7 linked regions of the Homo sapiens genome follow. The protein of the gene in region 1 purifies or fractionates together with the protein of each later gene. This does not show direct contact. Each region holds a gene or a part of one and is shown in the gene's direction. Other genes may lie near its edges.

Region 1 (3,500 bases):
GATGGTCTTTCCCTTCAGGGAACCTACAGTCTAATATTGAACTTAGAGAGAGCTGATTGAGAGTTGTCCTGCTCGCGTTTTCTGGTGCACTTCCAGTTCTAAGGTTTTTGTTTACTGACCATGTGAAAATGCTTGCTGAATTGTAAAATAGGATGCTTGAGTGGTTTTAGGTATGATGATTTTGTACTATTTGTGTGAAATATAGCCCTGTCATATCATATGGTTTTTCAGAAAAAGGAGTGATATTTGGGTCCCCACTGACGGAGGAAGGCATTGCCCAGATATACCAACTGATTGAGTATCTACACAAAAGTAAGACTACTTGAAATTTTATCATTCTTTGTTTAATGAAGAATTCTGTTTTCTGTTGAGAGCTAACTGCCTTGAGTTAGTAGGTGCCAATTAACCATCAACAAAGGAACTAACCAGTGTTAATTTTGGGTGGCATGTTTTTAAATATATTTCCTTTTAAACTTCATCTCATATATTCATTTGTTTTATACTCTCAAAGTGTATATAAATTAGACCGTGTCTATGAAGTCACATTTACCTCTTGCCTCAGAGAGACACTTCTGGAAAAATACATTGTCCCTAAAGAATTGTTGCATTTATTTAAGAGAGCATGGTACCTTTTTTCTCCAGAATTCTATGATTAAAACACACTCTTTACTTTTTTTTTTTTTTTGAGACAAGGTCTCGTTCTCTCACCCAGGCTGGGGTGCAGTGGTGTGATCTTGGCTCACTGCAGCCTTGACCTCCCGGGCTCAGGTGATTCTCCCACCTTGGCCTCCCTAGTAACTGGGATCACAAGCTTGCACCACCACACCCGGCTACTTTTTGTAGTTTTTTGTAGAGATGGGATTTTGCCATATTGCCTAGGCTTGTCTTGAACTACTGTGCTCAAGTGATTCATCCGCCTAGGCCTCCCAAAGTGCTGAGATTATAGGCGTGAGCCATTGAGCCTGGCCTAGGGACGAATAGTTTAGTTGGGATGACCCTAAAGCTTCTGGGAATCTCTTAGGAATTTGACACATTAGAGTTCTAATTCCTGGAGCAATGCAGAGACTCTGGATTCATTCTGGGCTGGGAAAACAGTTTACAAGAGCCACAAACATCCACAGATGTATGTAGCCCCTCCAAACGAAGTCTGGGATAAACAAGAAGAGGTCTTTAGGGAGATTTGGCTTTTTTAAAGTTTATTTTTCAAGCTATTCCTGACCATTGATTGGGTTAAATTCAGATTGTCTATCCATACCTCAGGAGGTTGAATGACTCCCAGGAGGACTACCTTTTAGTTTGGAAGATCTCCAAATGCTCAGGGACATTCAGATATGTCTCCTCAGGAGGTCAATAGGTTCTAAACTACCCTGGTGAAAAAAGGCAAAAACTTACTTGAAAGGCTTTGTGAAGGGTCTTTTAAGTGTAAAGTAGTCTTTAGACCATTTATTTTAATAATAATCTTTCTGCTTCCTTTTTGCCTGTCCTCTGCTTTGTTTTATGCTAAACAGACTTGCGAGTAGAGGGTTTGTTTAGAGTACCGGGTAATAGTGTCCGACAGCAGATTTTAAGGGATGCTCTCAATAATGGAACTGACATTGACTTGGAATCAGGGGAATTTCACTCAAATGATGTTGCCACTTTGCTGAAGATGTTTCTAGGAGAGTTGCCGGAGCCTCTGCTGACACATAAACACTTCAATGCACACCTCAAAATCGCTGGTGAGTATAGGAAGTAAGAAGGAGATGTAAATACATTTCTTTCAATTTAGTAAAGTTCCTAGGAAATTTCTGTTGCTTGTGACCCACAGAAATACTTCTATTAATATTGGTTAAGATTTCGTGATGTTGCTGGACTTCTCTGGGTACTCATAGGTATTGGCTAGTTAAGTTTAATTTTAATTGAATGGCTTTCTTGATAAATAAGCTTTGTATTGAGATAAGGAGCTGGTAGTAAGATGTCGTCTGAGTTTTATTTATTTTTGAATCTCTGATAGATCCTCGAGTAGTGTGTAGAACATTTTAGTTGGAGACATGATCTCACTCTGTCACTTAGGCTGGAGTGCAGTGGTGCAACCTTGGCTCACTGCAGCCTTGCTCTCCCGGGCTCAGGTGAGCCTCCCACCTCAGCCTCCCAAGTAGCTGGGACTATAGGTGTGCGGCACCACGCCTGGCAAATTTTTTTGTAATTTTTGTAGACATGGGGTTTCGCCGTGTTGCCCAGACTCAAACTCCTGGGCCAAAGCCATCTGCCCACCTTGGCCTCCTGAAGTGCTGGGATTATAGGCATGAGCCACTGTGCCCAACGTGTTTTAGTTGCTTAATAAATGTATGCTTTTCATTGGATTGATTCATATATTTCAGATGTTTATAGGTTCGGTATTTTTGCCTTGGTTTGGGGTTTTTGCTCAGTATTTCTATGCCTCGGTTGAGGGCATCTCTACTCTTGGAAATTTTATTTGTTTGTTTGTTTGTTTTGAGACTGAGTCTCGCTCTGTCACTAGGCTGGAGCGCAATGGTGCAATCTCGGCTCACTGCAACCTCCGCCTCCCGGGTTCAAGTGATTCTCCTGCCTCAGCCTCCCGAGTAGCTGGGACTACAGGCACGCGCTACCACGCCTAGCTAATTTTTGTATTTTTAGTAGAGACGGGATTTCACCATGTTGGCCAGGCTGGTCTCGAACTTCTGATCTTGTGATCGGCCTACCTTGGCCTCCCAAAGTGCTGGGATTACAGATGTGAGCCACTGTGCCCAGCCAAGGAAATTTATTTTTTTTAAAAATTATTATTTGTTTTCTGAATAGAAACACATAGTTCAAAATTCAGATGATTCAAATAATATACAGTAAAAACCTTCTCTCCTACACTTGTTCCCCAACACCCAGTTCACCCAGTCCCCAACACCAGTAACACTGGTTAGTGTTACTGATTTAAAAAAAAAAAAATTTTTTTTTTTTTTTTTTAAAAGAAAGCCTGTTCCCCAGGCTGGTCTCAAACTCCTGGCTTCAAGTGATCCTCCCTCCTCAGTCTCCCAAAGTGCTAGGATTGCAGGCATGAGCCGCAGCCCCCAGACCAGTGTTACTGATTTCTAAAGTATCCTTCCAGAGATATTTTGTGTACTTCCAAACAAATACATATATTCCTTTTCTCTGATTTTTATGTAATAGGTTACACACATGGTTCTGTGGTTTGCTTTTTTCACTTACTGTATCTTGGAGAGTGTTCCATTTTCAGCTCATAAATAGTTTCTTCATACTGCTTTATACCCATGTGGTAGGGAATTCATTCTTAAATTGCACGTCTGTTATGCTGCTATGGGCTCTAAGTGTTCACAGCATCAATATCCATTACTGCAGTTGCTTAGTTTCCTGCCCCTGAGTATTTTTCCTGTTTCTTCTAATTATATGGAAAAGAAATAGAAGATTTTTTCCTTTTGAATAATTTTTACTACTTAAAGAAACAAGTGTTGAATTTTAAAAATCTAATACGATTAGTTTTTTTTTTT
Region 2 (3,500 bases), on another chromosome or scaffold:
CTACATTGGTTTTTATTGTTTGAAGCAGTAAGCAGTAATGGTGTCCTGCTTTTTTTTTCCAGGTTCCGGTGGAGGAGGAGGTTGCTGGTGATCTCTGCTCCTAACGATGAAGACTGGGCCTATTCACAGCAGCTCTCTGCCCTCAGTGGTCAGGCGTGCAATTTTGGTGAGTGGGAAGCCACCTCATTACTGCTTTCCCATACCACTCTCCTCCTGGTCAATTCTAAAATGGAACATAGAACCTTAGATCATTCAAAATGATTCCTAGTTCAGACTGTTCAGGTTTCCAGACACATACTCTACTATATTGAGTATAAAGTTGCTTTTAGACTGGAGCTTTAGTCAACTGTGGATTTTTTTTTCCCTCAATATTCTCTCCTCTCTAGTTCTTCTTCATTCATGTGTTTGAAAATATCTTCTGATTTACTTTTAATGATCTGTATCATTTATCTTCAGTTTTTTTTTAAATTGTCTCACTTAGGTATTACCATTCACTTAGGTAATACTCGAATATCTACTTACATACCATCACTGGATACTCCATAGATTAAATGTCTTTTTTAAAATAGGAATGGCTCTGGGAATAATATATTAATTGAAGCAGACTATATTGCCCTTCTCTTAAAAATGATTTTTATCTTCAAAACTCAGAAGACTTAGTGAAAGAATTTTTTTTAAAAAAGGATTTTTATCTATAACTGAGCACTAAGAAAGTAGCAAGATCTCTTAAATAAAACCTTATTTTAAAGACAAGCAGGCCAAAGAAAAACATAGTTTACTGTTTTTTGTAGTGAATCGCTCAGAATTTTGAAAACGAATATATGCTTTATTTACCAAACATTTTTATTCTAGTGTCCTGAGAGAGCTAATGTCATTTTGGATATGGATATATAGGCAGTAAAATGAATAGTATATAGAACTTACTACTAAGTTCAATGATAAATCAAGGAGATGACTACAATTTCAAAAGTAGAAGTCATGAGTGAAATCTCATATGAGATATACCTCTGCAGAAGAAGAATTTTGAGAGATTCACTGGGCAGGGGCAGGGGCAGGGGGAAGTAGCTAAGGGCAACAAATTAAAAAATTCTCCATTAGAACATAGATGAATCACCATTATTTTGATGCCTCTATTAGGAGGAAGAATCATCTACTAGTTACAAAACTGTGCTTGATTTGTTTTTTAAAAGGGAGGAGGGTAAGTTTTGTAAAGCATTAACAGAGCCAAGGTCCTTGTTATGACCTAGTATGTGTAAATTATAAGTACATTTTAATTTTAAGATATGAAATAACTCAAAGGAAGGCCAAAACCAAACTCATAATAGTAAGAACAATAGAAAATTCAGAAATTTTTATTTGTACTCCTATTATCAAGGTTAATAATTTAAGACTTTATATTAACATATAAATTTGATTGTGCTAGTATTCTTAAGCACACTTTAAATTATTTATAGCCACCAATGTGGCCAGTTAAGATAGAAATTCTTACAGCAGTTAAGAACCTTTACAAGAAAAATATAAATAAAGCCACAGTTTTTAAATTTTCCAAAGATGCTTTTGTAGCAGCTATTTGGTGGTACTTTATCTTTAAATCTCTGCACACAGATCCTATGTCACATTGTGAAAGCAAACTCTTTTGTACTATACCCAAAATGCGAACAAGTCATGTTCACATTTATTAATTAATGAATAATTAAATTGATGATCTTCCCTTTTGAAAACATGACTAACCAATATGTAGAACAGAATAGTTCACTTCTCTGGGAAAAGAGTAAAGGTGAAAAAAAAATTTTTTTGAATAGCATTTTGCCTAGATTTTAGCTTCTCCTTAGAAGTACCCTCCCATGGCAGTGTTCACTTTTCTCTCCTGGACAATAAACAGCACCAACAACCTTATTATTAGTTCCAAGTTATTATCCTGACTAGGTTGGGACTTTATTTAAAACTATGAAAGCTTGATATGATGGCTTGACAGCCCCTTTGTCCTCCTATTTTCTTTCTCTGGAATCTCTTCATATCCACTTCATCTTCAAAAGAATTCCAACAAGCTACCAAGGCATGACCTTCCCTCCTGTCCTGAAACTTTAGCAGAGGATATGAAGGCAAGCTGTGCTTGCTTAAATGTCTTCCCTTTTAATCCTCTAAATTAGTGATAAAAACATATCCTTTAAGCCACTACAGTTTTGTGTGAGGAAGCAGAACAATTTCAATTTCTTTAACCATCACAATTGATGGAGTCTGTAGTCTTTTCTCTGAAAGTTAAGTTATCCTAAAAGCTGTTATAAATTCAGAACACTAACTAGCTTAGATCAGCTCAGATATTTTAATGTTCCAATGAATTGCTTCATCTTTTCTTTTTTTTGAGACCGAGTCTCTGTCACCCAAGCTGGAGTGCAGTGGCGCGATCTCGGCTCACTGCAACCTCCGCCTCCCGGGTTCAAGTGATTCTCCTGTCTCACCCTCCCGAGTAGCTGGGACTACAGGCACGTGCCACCACACCCAGCTGATTTTTTTTATTGTTAGTAGAGACGGGGTTTCACCATGTTAGCCAGGGTGGTCTCTATCTCCTGACCTCGTGATCTGCCCACCTCGGCCTCCCAAAGTGCTGGGATTACAGGCATGAGCCGCCGCGCCCAGCATGGCTTCATCTTTTCTTTTCTTTTTTGTCATTTAGTAGAATGAGAATCACAGTTCATCTTCTTTGAGGTTTTGAAAGTATTTTCTTCCTTATGGTAAAAATTTAAAATGGATTATTCTTCTCAATCGGGTTATGCTCTATATTCTTTTTAAATTTAAGAGATTTTTAATTGTCAGATATCAGGGCTTTGAAGTAAAAGATAACTTCTAATCCTTTCCTCTAATCCTATGGTTTTCTTTTTTCTCTCAGGTCTGCGCCACATAACCATTCTGAAGCTTTTAGGCGTTGGAGAGGAAGTTGGGGGAGTGTTAGAACTGTTCCCAATTAATGGTAATGTGTTGTTATCTTGAAACAGTATGAACTAGTGTTAAGTTCAGTTAAATTACATTAAGTTATATGCAAGCAGTGGGTGTATCTCTAAGGTGAACAAAGTTCATTGAATCCTCCTCCCACTTCATGCATTTGTGCATGTGTGCCTGTGTGTGCACGGGATATGTAGGGGAAGGGGTGTGGAGTACAGGGACTAATATTATTTCTAATATAAACCATTCCAAGTAACAGTAAAAATATCCATTTTTCTTAACTAAAATAATGCTTTTTGGGGGTCCGTATAGGTCCTTATGGTTTACAAAGCATTTTCTTCTATTTTATATCATTTAATTCTCACAATAGTTTTGTGAGGCACATAGGTCATATCTCATTGATTCCCTTTCAACAGATAAGGACATACACTAAAAGGCTCAGAGAAGCTGAAAGACACATACACTAAAAGGCTCAGAGAAGCCGGGCATGGTGGCTCACGTCTGTAATCCTAGCACTTTGGGAGGCCGAGGTGGGCAGAACACTTGAGGTCAGGAGTTCG
Region 3 (3,500 bases), on another chromosome or scaffold:
AGTTTCTAGAGTCTGTTTAGGATACTGAGATGAGGGAAGCTAGTCTGTTAATTTCCTTCAGTTAATTACATTTAAAAAATTTTTGGACATCTTTGTTTAATGACGGCCTTACACTGCACTGTGAGTTCTTTTTCTATATCCTTACAAAAATTTTTGTCACCTTGGGTCCAGAGGACACTGCAGAGAATGGGCATCCTGACAGTGCAGAAATTTAGTATTCCAGGCTGTGGAGATTTTCTACTTAATGAGATTTACAGATTCCAGTGATACATCAAGGGTTTAAATAAACCATTTCCCCTCTAAATATTTGGAACTGAGAGATATTACCTCAGATTCTGACTCTTACTAAGTCATCATTCTCTTTTTAACTGCCAGAGGTTACAGTCTTATCACCCTGTCAAAACAATTAGACTATTCAATGGAATATTGTCTTTGGTAGAATTTAAAACAATGTGTCTTTAATAAAACTGAAAGTGAAAAATCTTCTTGGCTAATTCTGTGGTGTACTTTAGGAGGCATAATAGTGGAGAAAATTTGGTCTCTTGAAATTTGAGCACATCCCACTGTATTATTTCACTGTATGGCAAAAGTGAAGGAGGTAGGCATGTTCTGTCATCCTTAATTAAGCTTTGGGCTGCTTATTGAAGTATCATTTTTTCTATAGATTGGAACATGGTTTATATAGCAGACTATCTTGTCCACTGACATTGCCCAGTACTGAGTTCCTTATCTAATTTCATTTTCTCTGAAATCTGCCTTCCTAGTTCTGACTAAGCTAAATAACTCAGGGAGATTTATATTCTATTTCAGATGGTCCACTCTTGGGACTATGCCACTGTTTTTTTGTTTGTTTGTTTGTTTGTTTTTGCTGTCCCAAACCACTTAGAAATCTAGATTAAGCCCAGCCCAGCATAAGACTCCGTGGCTCTAGAGTTGATTTGAAGTGATCTGTGCAATCAGGTTCTATTAGGTCTGAAGCTAAGAAAGCCATGTTTACTAGTCTGTCTTTGTAGGAAATACAGATGTGTATGAGTCTGTGGCTTCTGAAGCCGCAGAAGCCAGGTTGAAAGTTGTACAAAGGTGGGCTTCACAAAATACTTACATTCTCATCATTTGCCCAGTGTTTACTTGTATTTTATTTTTTTAAAGATTAACAGCAAGTGAGTCAAGTGTGGTGAGGGATTTTGACAAAAATCATTTTAATTTACAGTAATTTTAATGGACATAATACACTAAACAGGTGATGCCAATATTAATTGCAAGTAAGAATGAACTGGGGAGATTTAAAACAAACTTACTCAAGGACAGGGCACACCCAGGCTACTTAATTTAGAATCTGTGGGGGTTGGGGCAAATATTTTTATACGTGTTCAAAGCACCCTCATGTGATTCGAATATATAGCCCTGATTGACAACCCCTGGCATAAAGAGACAATCAGGAGTACATTTTCTTTCTCCTCTGAATAGTTAATTTACTGAAATGAACTATTTCAGATAAGTAATCTTGTTCACTGTATTCAAAATTTTTATTAATTCTGAATATAATACACTCACACTGTCAAGTAAAAGTTTAAAGCCAGAATTGCTTTATAGGAATAAATTGGAATAGAACTCTGGTCATTGTGCTCTCAATATAGCTCTGATTATATTTTCCCTAAGATGTCACAGTGCTATCAGTCTGATCAAAGCTGTGGGGAAGTTCTAAAGCGAGTGGGTTTATTTACTCTCAGAGGAAAAGCCATGGCAGGACCACTGCTTGTCTCACAGGTATTATCACATGACTGCCAGGTGCTGCTGTTCCTGCTCCCTCGGAAGTAGTAAGTATGCAGGCTGAGATAAATAGAAAGAAGCCTCTACTCTCCTCCAGCCTTGACAGCTTAGCCTCTTTTAAACTCTGACTCTGTAATTTGCTTTTCTTTAAATTATTTTTGTTTTCAATGACTTTTTTTTCACTTTGTATTTTTCCAGGGCCTCACTTGCAACTTCTTACATAAATTTCTGCTGTTGCAGAAACTATGTGAGAGGGGACTTTTTACCAGGCAGGCTTGCTTAGATATCTTTGTTTAAATGTATGCATTATCTACATTGCCACTTCCATTCCTAGGGCAAAAATATTTTTAATGCACCCCACACTGTATTCTGGAGTAGAGGTAGTATTGTCATTGTTAGCTACTAAAGAAAAATCTCCTTTATCTTAAATTTCTTAACTTTTCAGAAAACATCCTCGGTTGTTTTATTACATTGAGTTTTTTTTTTTTTTTAAAGGAATGAAGCCAAGAGTGATGAAAGAAGCTGTATCTACTCCATCACGAATGGCCCACAGGGATCAGGAATGGTATGATGCTGAAATTGCCAGAAAACTGCAAGAAGAAGAACTTTTGGTGAGCAAATTTTAAGGCAAAAGTTTAGATATATTGATGGGTATTTTTTTTGTGAATCTAGTCCATCTTGAAATTATATTAATAGTCCTCTATCAATTGAGAAACCTTTTTTTATGAGTGGAAAAATCATGACAATAGGAATAGAGTATCCACTTTTGCTTAGTGAGTAAGCATTAGCAGCAAAGTCCATAACTCCATTTCTCCATCTCCATGATTGTTCTCCATAACCCTGCTGTAGGATTTGATAAAAAGAGCTCCTGCTCTGGCTGGTGAAAGCATACCAACTGATTATCAACCTCAGGAACATGAGTCACAATTATTTTCAAAAACCAGCTTATTTTGTACAAGATACTGAAAATGCACAACATAGATTCCAATTAAATTCTTTGTTTTTGTATTTTCGATATCATAGGCTACCCAGGTGGACATGAGAGCCGCTCAAGTAGCTCAAGATGAAGTAAGTTAATGAGTTTAGCTGATATTCTTTGGAAATATCCTAGTATATTTCTATCTGCACCTCTGCAGTTAATGATATTGACTGTATTTTGTTTAGGAAATCGCTCGACTTCTAATGGCTGAAGAAAAGAAAGCTTACAAAAAAGCCAAGGAGCGGGAGAAATCATCTTTGGACAAAAGAAAGCAAGACCCCGAGTGGAAGGTAGAGTGTGTTTTGTTTGTTTTCTAATTAGAAATAAAATTAGAAATGAAAAGGGGACTCTGCTTTTGAGTTAAGCTCTGCAAATATATTTAGGATATATGAATATATAAATTATCTGTATTGCATATGTGAATCTGATCTGTGAAGATTCCATCACCATGAAAAATCACTGAATTTTGGAACATATGTAAAAAGTTACTGCTAAGATTGAAAACTCATTCTGTTCCCTTTAAGACGGAGTGAAATGCAAGTGCTTCTGGTCATGAACAGTCTTAGTTTTCATATACAGTACTTTGATTATAGAAGAATATAGCATTTTCACATGCTTTCATATTTTCCACAATGAACTTCTCTTCCCGTCTCTACTTTCTTTGTGCTTACATTATCTTTCATCTCTATCATGTATCCGTTTCTCTTTCCTTTGATGTAACATGGTTTGTGGCAGACTGAAAGATACATAC
Region 4 (3,500 bases), on another chromosome or scaffold:
TATTATATAATAGCATGGGTGGATAATTTAACATATTTGATATTTCTTTGCTACTTTTGAAGACATTGGCTCTTTATGGCTCACAGTTTTTAAAAATTGAGGTATAATTTACATATAAAATGCTCAGATTTTAAGTGTACAGCTTGATGATTTTTGACAAATGTATATGCCCCAATCAAGATTTAGAACATTTCCCTCTCTCCCAAAAGGCTTTCCATACCCTCCTGCAGTCAGTCTACCTCCCCACTTGCTACCCCAGACAAATGCTCATATTTCTATCACTAGATTAGTTTTGCCTGTTACAGAATTTCATATAAAAAAAATCATACAGTATGTACTCTTTTATGTCTGACTTACTCCACTCAGTATAATGCCAGATTTATCCATGTAGTTGTAGAATCACATTTTTCTTAAAATGGATTTTTTCCCCCTTAACAGTGACTTAAGTTTTTCTTCCATTTTTCTGTTTTTATTTCTTCATAAAATATTAGAATAATTGACCATAAGAAATGAATCAAGGTTACTAGTTAAATCTCCATTTCTGCGTAGCCAACTAGAATATTTTCAAATGGAATATTGAGGAAGTTACTAATTACAACTTTTGAATTTTTAATTATGTCGTTGCATTAGTAGATATTTAATACCTACAATAGGTTAAGAGTTGATCAGTTTTGCATCTATATAGCCTATATACTTTTTATTATGTGGTACGCTTTAACAGTTTTTTTTGGGACCTTATATAGTGTTGCTTTCAACCAGTGTCTAGTCTAGTGGGGAAGACAGACATGTGAACATGAATATAAAGCAAACTGAAATATGAAAAGGAAACTAATATACTGAGGATTCCTGTGTGCTCATTATACTTTATTTGATCTTCAGGATCACTCTGATGTATTATTATTCCCATTTTACAGGTCAGAAAATTGAAGCTCAGGTTAAGTAATTTGTTCAAGGCCATGTGGCTGATAAATAAGTGTCAAGATTGGGATTTGAACACAGGCCTATCTGACCTTCAAACCTATACTATTCTTCTGTCTTGCCTTGTTTTAACAGTAGCGTTACAGAATGTGAATGAAATGTAGAGAATGAAATGATTCACTTTGTTGCAGGAAAATCAAGGCAGGAATAAGCATTTAAATAACATTCAAGGCTGGTTTAGATTTAAATAGGCAAAAATAGAGGTGAAATAATTTCATTTGGGAGAGAACAGCAAGAAATACAGAATGGCATACAAGTACAAGGCATTTTTGTGGAATAATGTGGCTGGAGAAGAGGGTATATAGGAAAAAATGTTGCAGATACGGTTGTAACAGGATTGGGCCAGATTGTGGAGTACCTTAAATTTTTCGTATAAAATTTCAACTTTATATTTTCAAGTAGTTTTTGAGTAATTCGGTGATATCATCACACTTTTGGGAAGATAACTCTTGAATTGTAAAACAAAGAAAGGGAGAAATGAGAGATGAGTTTAAAAATGCTTGTTAGAAGGCTTTTTTAGTAGTTCAGGTGAGAGATCTCAACCTAGGTTGAGGTCATTGGGAATTAATGGGGAAAAATGTGAGCGATACCACAGAAATAAGTAGGACCTGGCAGCCACATTGAATATATGGGAAAGAGATGGAGTCCTGATGCAAGATCTTTTTTTTTTTTTTTTGGTCATCATTTTCCCTCATTAAAAAAATATATAATTCACACACTGTATACTTTACCCTTTTAAAGTGTACAATTCACTGTGTGTGTGCGTGTGTGTGTGTGTTTTTTTTTTTTTTTGAGACGGAGTCTCTGTCACTCAGGCTGGAGTGCGGTGGCGTGATCTCGGCTCACTGCAACTGCAACCTCCACCTCCCGGGTTCAAGCAATTCTCCTGCCTCAGCCTCCTGAGTAGCTGGGATTACAGGCACCTGCCACCATACCCAGCTAATTTTTGTATTTTTAGTAGAGACGGAGTTTCACCATGTTGATCAGGCTGGTCTCGAACCCCTGACCTTGTGATCCACCTCGCCCGGCCTCCCAAAGTGCTGGGATTACAGGCGTGAGCCGCCGCGCCCGGCCAATTCACTGGTTTTTAAGAGTTGTGCCGGCATCACCACTGTTTAGAACATTTTCCTCACCCAGAAAGAAACTGTGTACCCATTACCATCACTCCCCATTCTCCCCACCCCTAAACCCTGGCAACCACTAATTTACTTTCTGTTTCTATGGGTTTCCCTATTCTGCACATTTCATATAAATAGAATCATGCAATAGGCTTTCTTTTGTGTCTGACTTCTTTCACTTAGCATGATGTTCTCAAGATTGTAACGTGTCAGTACTCTTTATTTCTTTTTTTATTACTGAATAATATTCCATTGTATGAATGTACCATATTTTATCTATCAGTGGTAGGCATTTGGGTTTTTCCCAATTTCTGGCAATAATGCTGCTATAAATACTTGTGTATAGGTTTTTTGTGTGGATATGTTTTCATTTCCATTGGATATTCTATTGGATATGTACCTAGGATGGAAATTTCTGGTTCATATGATAACTCTGGTTTCATATATATATATATATATATATATATATATATATTTTTTTTTTTTTTTTTTTTTTTTTTTTTTTTTTTTTTGAGACGGAGTTTTACTCTTCACCCAGGCTGGAGTGCAGTGGCGTGATCTCGGCTTATTGCAATCTCTGCCTCCCTGTTTCAAGCAATTCTCCCGCCTCAGCCTCCTGAGTAGCTGGGATTACAGGCGTGTGCCACCATGCCTGGCTAATTTTGTACTTTTAGTAGAGACAGGTTTTCACCATGGTGGCCAGCCTGTTCTTGAACTCCTGACCTCAGGTGATCTGCCTGCCTCGGCCTCCCAAAGTGCTGGGATTACAGGTGTGAGCCACCACACCTGGCCTGGTTTTATTTTTTGAGGAACTGCCAGACTTTTTCAAAATGGCTGCACCATTTTGCATTCCTGTCAGCAGTGTATGAGGGTTTTGACACTTCCACATCCTGTCTAACATTTCTTTTTTATTGTAGCCATATAGAAGGTGTACAGTGGTATCTCATTGTGGCTTTGATTTGCACTTCCCTGGTGGCCAATAATGTTGGACACTTTTTTGTTTTTGGAGAAATGTATATTCATGTCATTTACCTTTTTTTAAAAAAAATTTAAAATTGAGATGGGGTCTCACTATATTGGCCAGGTTGGTCTTGAACACCTGGCCTCAAGCAATCCTCCTGCCTCAGCTTCCCAAAGTGCTGGGACTACAGGTGCAAGCCACTGTTCCCAGCCACATTTATCTCTTTTTATTTTATTTTATTTTTTGAGACAGAGTCTCGCTCTGTAGCCCAGGCTGGAGTGCAGTGGCACGAACTTGGCTCACTACAACCTCCACCTCCTGGGTTCAACCAGTTTCCCTGCTTCAGCCTCCCGAGTAGCTAGGACTACAGGTGCAGCTGGGATTACAGGCATGTGCCACTACGCCCAGCTAATTTTTGTATTTTTAGTAGAGACGGGGTTTCA
Region 5 (3,500 bases), on another chromosome or scaffold:
TAAGTCAGCTAGGGATTTTCCTCTCCATTTTATAGAATAGAAGAAGCCCACTACCATGACTTCCTCATCTGTCTCTCTGTTGACAGGTTGGAGGCTGATCTCTTAGAAAAGTAGGGGAAAAAAAGGAGAGGCATGAGCTTTCTGTACAAAGGGAGGAGAAAGCCTTTCCAGCACACCCAGAACTGAAACTTTAGAGTACTAGGACTGGAAGTTCCTGTCATTAAATGTGACTGTTTCATTTGCTTCTAACAAGTTCTTGTTTCTGTTTTCAGCTGTCTCAGTGATTCAGTCCATTCCAATATTCAATGAGACCGGACGATTCAGTTTCACATTGCCATATCCAGTGAAAATCAAAGTTAGATTTTCCTTTTTTCTTCAGATTTATCTTATAATGATATTTTTAGGTAAGTATTGATTCTTTAATACAGACTTTTTCTTGTCACTTCTTAGACAGTAGAATTAAATCATTCAGAAATGTAAAAGTCCATATGAGAATTCTTTTGGGACAGAATTAGAGAATGATTACTTTGCAAAAACAGACCCACTAGGGGAATATGCTATGGTAAGGAAATATTTCTTTTCTAAATCTCCAGCAGTTAAATTATGTTCTTTAAGTGCTCTTGGTGATTGGGAATATACCATAAGATATTTCTTGTTTAAAACAATGTAAGGGGACAGGCATGGTGGCTCACGCTTGTAATCCCAGCACTTTGGGAGGCTGAGGTGGGCACATCACAAGGTCAGGAGTTCGAGACCAGCCTGATCAACGTGGTGAAACCCTGTCTCTACTAAAAATACAAAAATTAGTTGGGTGTGGTGGCGGGTGCCTGTAATCTCAGCTACTCAGGAGGCTGAGGCAGGAGAATCGCTTGAACCCGGGAGGCAGAGGTTGCAGTGACCTGAGATTGCAGCATTGCACTCCACCCTGGGCGACAGAGCGGGACTTTGTCTCAAAAAAAAAAAAAAAATAAATAAATAAATAAAAATTAAAAAAAAAAAAGTAAGGAGCCTTTTAAAATAGACTAAGAAGCTCCCACTTTTACTAATTTCAGTAGCATATTCCTCATCCAGAGTTTATAGAGGTGATAAGACAACCAGCAGCAAGGAAGGAAGAAGGGAATAAAGGCCTCTGAGCAGCCAAGGGTTGTCATAAAGCCTTCCACCTCACAATAGGAAAGTCCCCTGCTCCTCATGGAAAACCTGCTGACCTATTAATTTATATAAAATCATAAATTCCTGCCTTTATAAACTAACAGAAGGGAAAAAGAAAGAAACCTAAATTATTACAAATATGACAAATTTAAAAGGCTTCCTAACTATAAGGATTTTTTTTTGTTGTTGTTGTTGTTAAATTCTTATTAGAGGCCAGGTATGGTGGTTCATGCCTGTAATCCCAGCACTTTGGGAGGCTGAGGTGGGTAGATCACTTGAGGACAGAAGTTTGAGACCAACCTGGCCAACATGGCAAAACCCTGTCTCTACTAAAAGTACAAAAATTGGCTGGGCTTGGTGGCGCATGCCTGTAATTCCAGCTACTTGGGAGGCTGAGGCAGGAGAATCGCTTGAACCCAGGAGGCAGAGGTTACAATGAACCGAGATTGTGCCACTGCACTCCAGCCTGTGTGACAGAGCAAGACTCTGTCTCAAAAAAAAAAAAAATTTATTAGTAATCAGTATTTGGTAATTTCTAAATGCAACTATACATGATTCTACCCATATTATCTATACTATACTCTATACATAGATGTGAAAATACATACATTCTTATGTGTAGGTTAAATACAATTTGAGAAAAATAATTTTTTCCTTTTAAGAGCAAACTAATACGTATCGATTTTAGTATGACAACTAAGAACATAAAAACAGAATGAAAGGAATTTTGTCATTAAATATATTTGAGAGGAGAAAACACTGATTATCATACATAGAACTTTACATGTTTAAGGATAAGACAAGCTCCTAACTATAAGGACTCTTTAAAGTTCTGATACATTTTAGTGGTAATTTATATATTTCTCCTTGCTTTATTTCACAAAAGACTTAAGGTGGCCCTAAATAAATATAACTGTCCAGTCTCCTAGCCACAGAAGGATGCAACAATAGTATATTAGTTCTCTATTGCTGTGTAACAAATGACCCCCAAAACTTAGCAGCTGAAAACAATAAATAGTTATTATCTCACATAGTTCCTGAAGGTCAGGAAGCAGCCTGGCTGGGTGGTACTGGCTCAGGGTCTCATGAGGTTTCAGTTAGGCTGTCAGCTGGGGCTGCAGTTTCTGTAGACTTGACTGGGGCTGGAGGATCTGCTCCAAGCTCACTCTTGTGGCTGTTGACAGGAAGCTTCAGTTTCTTGCCATAGCCCGTCTCCATATGGCTACTCATGGCATGGCTTCCCCCAAAGCAATTGGTTAGAGAGAGAGAGCCCGAAGCCACAGTGCCTAATCTCAGAAGTGACAAATCATCACACAGACCAACCCAGTATAACATGGGAGGGGACTACACAAAGGTATGAAATAACAGGAGATAGAGGTTGTTGGGATCATTGTCACGGCTTGCTACCCCAGACAGTGAGAGGAAGACCACGCAAGGTAAGCCCAGGAAGCCAGAAAGCCCAGTGGTCTTGGTCATTTAGTGTTGCGGGAGGAGAGACTTATACCATAGTATTAGGAGCCCCTTAGTGTGCCAGTGCCTGGCAGATGTACAGTTAAATAGTATACATTGTAGGCCCACGTCATTTGCAAAAGGTTAAAATTTCTTTCTTTTTTTCTGTTTCAGCAAAGGGTATAATCCATTTCAGAAATATTGCCAACCAAAAATATTAAAATGTTTTGCCCTTGAAGAGAGGAACCCTCAGTTCAGAAAATGTACTAATTAAAGACAGCTTTTTACCTTTATTACTGTATAAATTCAGTATAACTAGGCCCCATGAAATGGGCATAAGATAAAGAGGAATAAATATTGGAAAGACATTTAAAATATTTTAGTGAACAGGGTAGAGGGGTAGAAATATTTTAAAGTGCATTGACTTAGTATCTTTTTTTGTGTTGTTTATATTGTACACTCTAATTTGCAAGATTTTATGTTCATATCTACTTTGCTTATAGTGAATATGTAGTTGCTCTTTTCTTATTCTTTAGAATGAAATAAATCCTAATTTCACATTTATAATTTTGAAGCAGTGTAAACAGCCAGTTAACATTTGTATATAGGTCAAAGGACTTTTTAGTTTTTTTTTTTTTTTTTGAGACAGAGTCTTGCTCTGTCACCCAGGCTGGAGTGCAGTGGCACGATCTTGGCTCACTGCAACCTCCACCTCCTGGGTTGAAGCAATTCTCTTGCCTCAGCCTCCGGAGTAGCTGGGATTACAGGCACCTGCCACCATGCCTGGCTGATTTTTGTATTTTCAGTAGAGATGGGGCGTCACAATGTTGGCCAGGCTGGTCTCAAACTCCTGACCTCAGGTGATCCACCCATCTTGGCCTCCCGAAGTGCTGAGATTA
Region 6 (3,500 bases), on another chromosome or scaffold:
ATTTGAGATCAGCTGTTTTTGTGAGAATGCTAATGTGGCATTCCTGATTAGTCTGTATGTTTGTTTGTTTGATTTTTAATTCTGGGTGCAGAGGAACACAGATTATCAAATCCAGTTGGTATTTCTTATGCCACTATAGTACAACTTGAAATCCCTTTTAAGTAGAGGAAACAGTGTTGTATTCATTTCCTATTGCTGTTATAACAAATTACTACATATTTGAGTAGCTTAAAGCAACACAGATATATTATCTTAGAGTTCTGGAGGTCAGAAGTCTAGAACAAGTGGGCCTTCCTTCTGGAGGCTCTAGGGCAGAGCCCCTTTCCCTGCCCTTTCCAGCTGCTAGGGGCTGCAGCTCACAGCCCAGCATCACTCCAACCTCTGCTTGTTCCCACATCTGTTTCTCTGGCTCTGCCTCTTCTGCCTCCTTCCATCTCTTATAGGGAGCCTTGTGATGACATTGGGCCAACCAAATATTCCAGGATCATGCCTGCATCTCTCAAGATCCTTAACTTAATCATATCAGCAAAGTCCCTGCACCATGTGAGGTAACATATTCACAGTAGTAGGTGCTCAATAAATAGATACTAAAGATAGCAGCATTTTTTATTAGACCTTCTCACAGCTTCTGGGGATTAGAATGAGACATCTTTGGCAGCCATTGTTCTCCCCATCATGGGTAACATGCAGTGGGCGCTTCCAGTGCCAGGATTTCGGTGGGTTTAACTGGAGTGTGCAGATAAGTAGTTGGCGTCAAGAACTCCTGCTGCTTCCCTTGCTGGAAAGATGGGGTGGCTTTGAATGACATCCCAGAATCTGATTCTTCCGTCTGCGGAATGTGCATAGGATGTCTGAATCACACTATTGTCGTGAGAAATGAGGTAGAATATTCTCTGATGTGGCAAGCTTAGGCCAGCATCTAGCCCAATTCCTTGTATATAATGGAAATTCTTAAGATGTTAGGGTTCCCCTCTCCCTCTCTCTCCTTTTTCCTCGCCTACAAAGGAAGACATCTTTTGTGAGGCCTCCACAGCATTCTTGATCACTTGTACTTAGAGTAACCTTAAGGTTATTGTAGTATAGAACTTCATAGTGTAAAGGTCAAGTTTTTATTTAAAGGAAAAAAGTGGGGGGGCCTCCAAGATATCATTTCTCTGCAGACATTAATTGGTGTCATACTTCAAGAAAAATGGCTAGAAAAGAGTGGTGAGTGGAAAGCTGGCCAGTGCCCTGGAGGCTGCTCCTGCTTTGAGTTCTCCCGGACTTGTTTCTGCTGCCAGCATCTGCCATGCAACCTGGGCAAGTTATTTCCCCTCTGGACCTCAGCTTCCGCATAATAAGCGCATTGGATAAATCATTTTTCAGACTATCCAGTTCTTATACATGATAATACTTATATTTTATAGAGTAACCATATTTTTGGCTGGGTGCAGGGAATCACACCTGTAATCCCAGCATTTTGGAGGCCAGGGTGGGCAGATCACTTGAGCCCGGGAGTTCGAGACCAGCCTGGGCAATAGAGTGAAACCCTGTCTCTACAACCAGTACAAAAATTTAAAAAAACAGAAACTAGCTGGACATGGTGGCAGACGCCTGTAGTCCTAGCTGCTCGGGAGGCTGAGGTGGGAGGATCACCTGAGCCCAGGACGTCAAGGCTGCAGTGAGCTATGATTGCACCACTGCACTCCAGCCTGGGTGACAGAGTGAGACCCTGTCTCAAAATAAATAAATAAATAATAAAGTAACCAATTCTAAAATGAGACCGTGATGGCGGCAGCTTGCCCTAAAGGTTGCCTTATATTTAACAAATTAGGGATAGTTTGTTATTAGGAACTAGAATTCTATAAAAGCTACATATTAATTTTTGTTTTCATTATTTATGTTAAGCATGAAGGAAAAATAGTGATAGTGAGAATTATAGTTAAAAGGGAAGAGAGATTCCTTGGTATTCAATTTTCTGAGAAAAACCCATATCAGATCTTCACCGGGGAACATCACAGATCACCTAGGCCCGAGGGCAGGCACAGGAGGGTAAAGAAGGGTGCAGGGAAGGAAATGGCTCACGGCCTCATGTACAGCCACAGCCTGGTGTCCGTCCAGCATGAAGTCCACACCCAGAGCCATGCTGAATCCCACGCCCAGCCTTATGCTGGACCTCCTGGATCAGAACCTCTAGAAGGAGGATAGTATTTGTCTTTATAAGAAGCTCTCCAGGTGATTTTGATGTGTTCCATTGGTGCAGAACCATCAGTCTGCACTAGCAGCTTTGCAGGAATAAACGGTTTCCCAAGGAGGGGAGGTTTAACGTGTTGTTCCTCTTGCTACCACCATCATTGCTGTTAAATCCACCTCCTCCCGCTTCACTATCCAGAAATGGAAGTGACCGGCTACCAAGGTGTCTTCCTTTTGGCCAGTCGGGCTACCAATAGATTTACCTCTCATCTTTCAGGATGCCACTCTCTCCTGGTTTTGCACCCACCAGTCACTCCCCAGCCCACTTTGCTGTGCCTTCAGTCCTTTCTGACCTCTTCACACCACAGTCCTTGGATCTCTTTATTTACCTTCACTTCCCTGGTGATCTCATCACATCGCATGACTTTAAATATAATCTCTGTCTGACAACTCCCACGGATAATCTCCAGATTACACTTCTCCCCTGAACTTAGACCTACTTACTCTGCTGCCCGCTGGACATCTCCACTTGCTGCCTCCTGGGTGCCTCACGCTTACTCCGTGCAAATCTGAGCTTCCTGTCTTCTCCCTCGGCCCTCTCCACCTCCAGTTTTTCCAACTAAATACCTCAGGAACCATGCTTTTTCTTTCTCTCACATCCCACATCTAAGATGTCAAGAAATCCTGCTGGCACCATTGAAGAAATACCCAGAATTCCAGTACCTCTTGCCACCTGCGCTGCCCCCCAGCTCTGTCTGGATCTCTGCAGTAACCTTGTCACTGTTCCTCCTGTGTCCGCTCTTATCTCCCCACTGTCTGTTCTCCACACAGCAGCCAGAGAGATCCTTTTAAATTGTGCGTCCGTTCATTTCGGTCCTCTCATCAGAACCTTCCAGTGACTCCCATTTGTTGCAGAGTGAAATGCAAAGGCCTTACAGTGGCTCCATAACCCACATCATCTGACTCCAACCTGAGCCATTACATCTCTTACCTCCTCATCTCCCATCTCCCACTTCCTCACTCCGCCCCAGCTCATGCCTTCTTGCTATTCTTTGAAGACACCAGATGCATTTCTTTTTTTTTTTTTTGAGACGGAGTTTCGCTCTTGTTGCCCAGGCTGGAGTGCAATGGCACGATCTCGGCTCACCGCCATCTCCGCCTCCCAGGTTCAAGCCACTCTCCTGCCTCAGCCTCCCGAGTAGCTGGGATTACATGCATGCACCACCACGCCTGACTAATTTTGTATTTTTAGTAGAGACAGGGTTTCTCCATGTTGAGGCTGGTCTCGAACTCCTGACCTCAGGTGATCCGCCCGCCTCGGCCTTCCA
Region 7 (3,004 bases), on another chromosome or scaffold:
ACGCATGATTTTAGGTCAAGGTATTTAATTATTTTTACTTAAAATAGGCATTTTTGGTTGGGAAAGAGAAGGATGAACAATTTGATGTCACCTTTAAGACTGATGTTTTTAATTCTGCTTTTGGGACCACTTGATCTAGAATGCCTTGAAAATTCCAGAAAGATTTAACAACACACTGAGGTAAGCAAAACAAGAAAAGAAAGTAGGGGTGAGGTGATACCCAGATAATGCAAATGCAGGATGTATTGTCTGTGAATTTCAGCATCAATCTGAAAAACATGTTTTGATAATGCCTGATAATTCATCATCTCACTGATTACATGTCTTTTTTTCTATTTGTTTATAATCTTGTGTCTTCAAATGTGTGGAAGATGTGCAGACTTATTTTTAGGTATCTGAGATAGGAAGGGCCAATGTTGGCATAATTTGAACCCACATTTCGGGGCTAATGGGCGGACACCACCTGGAAACACTTACCTGCACCCTCTGTTTTGCAATCACAATGATTAGCATCTTGCTGAATGATGACCCCAATGTGAAGATGGCATTTCAGTGTTTATTTCTGGATCTATGAGTTACTTTAGCAGAGTTATTAGTAGTTTATAAAGCCATATTTAAACTTGTACACTTGATTGTAAGATAGATTTGAATTGTGCACTATGTTGACTACTGTATATAAATGTGGAAATTCTGTATATTTGGTCTTAATGCTATATGTATTTGATGTGTAAATGATAACTAATGGATATGAAATAGTTTTCTGTGAATGTCTTTCTTCCAATTTACTTCTCTTTTGCAAATTTGAATGTTTAAACTTCAGGCTCATGGGGAAAATCTGAAATGTTTGCATCTAATATACTGTTAAGTGGTGGTCTCTTAGATGACTGGGAGAGTATTTTAGTTGTAAGGCTCTTGTATAATTAAAACAGAGGTAATGAATTTTTTAGGCATATAACTTTGATAGAATTTCAAGTGAGTGGCTTTTAAGAAGAAAAACAGATCTCTGGAATATGCTGTCCCATCCTCTCCTGCTTTTATTTCATGCCCAGTGTGCCTCAGAGTGTTACGAAGTGTGAGAACCACTGGTAGAGAGAAGACAAGGAGGAGAGGGAGAGCTGGGAGCACATGTTGAGACCTTTACTATGGCTAGGCCTTATAATAGACCAATTTCCCCTTGTATAAATATTGTCTCAATTAGGCAGGGTGCAGTGGCTCATGCCTGTAATCCCAGGACTTTGGGAGGCCAAGGTGGGCAGATCACCTGAGGTTGGGAGTTTGAGACCAGCCTGACCAACATGGAGAAACCCTGTCTCTACTAAAAATACAAAATTAGCCGGGCATGGTGGTGCATGCCTGTAATCCCAGCTACTTGGGAGGCTGAGGCAGGAGAATCGCTTGAACCCAGGAGGTGGAGGCTGCAGTGAGCTGACTTTGTGCCATTGACTCCAGCCTGGGCAACAAGAGCAAAACTCCATCTCAAACACACACACACACACACACACACACACACACACACACACACACATATAGTCTCAATTAGTTTTCATACCTCTTCAATAAAGTAATTATTGTTCCCAAATTACAGATGAAGAAAGACGTTTGGGATGATAAACTGGCATATGGTAATATGGCCATGATATGCTCAAGTCTTTAGGGTCAGAGATTCACAGCAAGATTTTGGAAATTCAAATCTTACTATGAAGTGATTCACACATGTGTATGGTAATGAACCTTAAAGGATAGCTGGGCCTATAGGCATGTCAAGATCTATAGAGACATGCAGGATGTTTCAAATTCTATCTTAAAATTTGACCAAATCTTTGGTCAAATAATAATACTGTTACTCAAATATTAGCTTTTTACCATTTAGAGCAAATTACAATCAGGTAACATTCAAAATTCTAACCCTCCCTTCCCAACATGGGAATATCTATTAAGTAGGAAATGAGAGAACCCCCTAATTTCCCATTTCAGTGATAATACTGATTGAGTATCTCTTATCTGAAGTGCTTGGGACCAGAAGTGTTTTGGATCTGGGTTTTTCTCAGATTTTGAAATATTTGCATTATACCAGTTGAGTATCCCAAAATCAAAACTGGAAATCTGAAATGATCCAATGTCCGTTTCCTTTGAGTGTCATGTTAGTGCTCAAAAAGTTTTGGATTTTGGAGCGTTTCAGATTTTGGATTTTTGGATTTGGGATGCTCGACCTGTAGTTTGGTTTTCATCTTTTTAGACTCCATTTCTCTTGACCTATAAATCCTATCAGCCCTGTTTATTAACATAGACCCTAGTCAGAAATACTTTGAAATAGATCTACATCTACTTCAACGTCAGTTGGTTCCACACCCTTCTAGAACTTGTGTGGGGTCCTGGACTTCCCGTCTGTCCTGTTAGGGAAGCTTTGCTGTCCTAGCTTTCAGGACTCATCAGAGGGAAGAGGGTCATTTACCTTTCCAATGTGCTGTGATCTCAGAGTCGTTAAAATACATGTTTTGCTGCCATTTGTACTGTTTCTTGACTCAATGTTTCATATTTCTGTTCTTCTTTCCTTTTAGAGGAGAGGCGGAACAGCTGGTCTCCCTGCTCTCTCAGAAGCTGCTTGATTTGTTTCTAGATGACGCCACTGGCAGGCACTCATTAGATCTTTCACAGCTGGGCTGGTTCCCATTAGCAACAGACTTTTCTTTTAAAAACTGTCAAGGTCAGAGCAGCTTATCCTTTGGATAAAAGTGGATTTTGGAGGAAAAAAAAAAGAGGAAAAAGAACCAGCTTCCTTCCTTACGGAATTAGCGTGTTGCTGCCCCGTATGCCTAAGAGGTCTATTTTAGTGCCAGCGTTCTTGTTATGAAGACTTAGGGGGTCGTCTCCAGTGGAGGGACTGTTCGGATTGGAGGGTTACGTTCACCTACCGCAGGGTATGTTGGGCCTGGGCAAACACACTGGGTAACCTGTGCTCAACATTATATACAGGTAAATCTGGATGAAAACAAACATGAAAGGC

Evidence for each region.
Region 2: the proteins of ARHGAP19 (region 1) and CCDC80 purify together in Homo sapiens (co-immunoprecipitation; one large-scale study listed by IntAct). This does not show direct contact.
Region 3: the proteins of ARHGAP19 (region 1) and CCDC50 purify together in Homo sapiens (affinity purification with mass spectrometry; one large-scale study listed by BioGRID and IntAct). This does not show direct contact.
Region 4: the proteins of ARHGAP19 (region 1) and NSRP1 purify together in Homo sapiens (affinity purification with mass spectrometry, with the first as the bait; one large-scale study listed by BioGRID). This does not show direct contact.
Region 5: the proteins of ARHGAP19 (region 1) and HACD3 purify together in Homo sapiens (affinity purification with mass spectrometry; one large-scale study listed by BioGRID and IntAct). This does not show direct contact.
Region 6: the proteins of ARHGAP19 (region 1) and SFXN1 purify together in Homo sapiens (affinity purification with mass spectrometry; one large-scale study listed by BioGRID and IntAct). This does not show direct contact.
Region 7: the proteins of ARHGAP19 (region 1) and FAXC purify together in Homo sapiens (co-immunoprecipitation; one large-scale study listed by IntAct). This does not show direct contact.

What each region holds. Positions count from the first base shown.
Region 1 is NC_000010.11:97,261,638-97,265,137, reverse strand, and holds part of ARHGAP19 (rho GTPase-activating protein 19), read left to right. Parts: intron 1-231; coding exon 232-312; intron 313-1,508; coding exon 1,509-1,718; intron 1,719-3,500. UniProt on the Homo sapiens protein: GTPase activator for the Rho-type GTPases by converting them to an inactive GDP-bound state.
Region 2 is NC_000003.12:112,606,644-112,610,143, reverse strand, and holds part of CCDC80 (coiled-coil domain-containing protein 80 precursor), read left to right. Parts: intron 1-62; coding exon 63-166; intron 167-2,887; coding exon 2,888-2,968; intron 2,969-3,500. UniProt on the Homo sapiens protein: Promotes cell adhesion and matrix assembly.
Region 3 is NC_000003.12:191,377,894-191,381,393, forward strand, and holds part of CCDC50 (coiled-coil domain-containing protein 50 long isoform), read left to right. Parts: intron 1-1,767; coding exon of another isoform or gene 1,768-1,781; exon of another isoform or gene 1,782-1,817; intron 1,818-2,265; coding exon 2,266-2,381; intron 2,382-2,793; coding exon 2,794-2,838; intron 2,839-2,934; coding exon 2,935-3,039; intron 3,040-3,500.
Region 4 is NC_000017.11:30,119,816-30,123,315, forward strand, and holds part of NSRP1 (nuclear speckle splicing regulatory protein 1), read left to right. Parts: intron 1-3,500. UniProt on the Homo sapiens protein: RNA-binding protein that mediates pre-mRNA alternative splicing regulation.
Region 5 is NC_000015.10:65,571,963-65,575,462, forward strand, and holds part of HACD3 (very-long-chain (3R)-3-hydroxyacyl-CoA dehydratase 3), read left to right. Parts: intron 1-272; coding exon 273-404; intron 405-3,500. UniProt on the Homo sapiens protein: Catalyzes the third of the four reactions of the long-chain fatty acids elongation cycle. This endoplasmic reticulum-bound enzymatic process, allows the addition of two carbons to the chain of long- and very long-chain fatty acids/VLCFAs per cycle.
Region 6 is NC_000005.10:175,485,060-175,488,559, forward strand, and holds part of SFXN1 (sideroflexin-1), read left to right. Parts: intron 1-3,500. UniProt on the Homo sapiens protein: Amino acid transporter importing serine, an essential substrate of the mitochondrial branch of the one-carbon pathway, into mitochondria.
Region 7 is NC_000006.12:99,270,668-99,273,671, reverse strand, and holds the end of FAXC (failed axon connections homolog), read left to right. Parts: 3' UTR 1-2,504; downstream 2,505-3,004. UniProt on the Homo sapiens protein: May play a role in axonal development.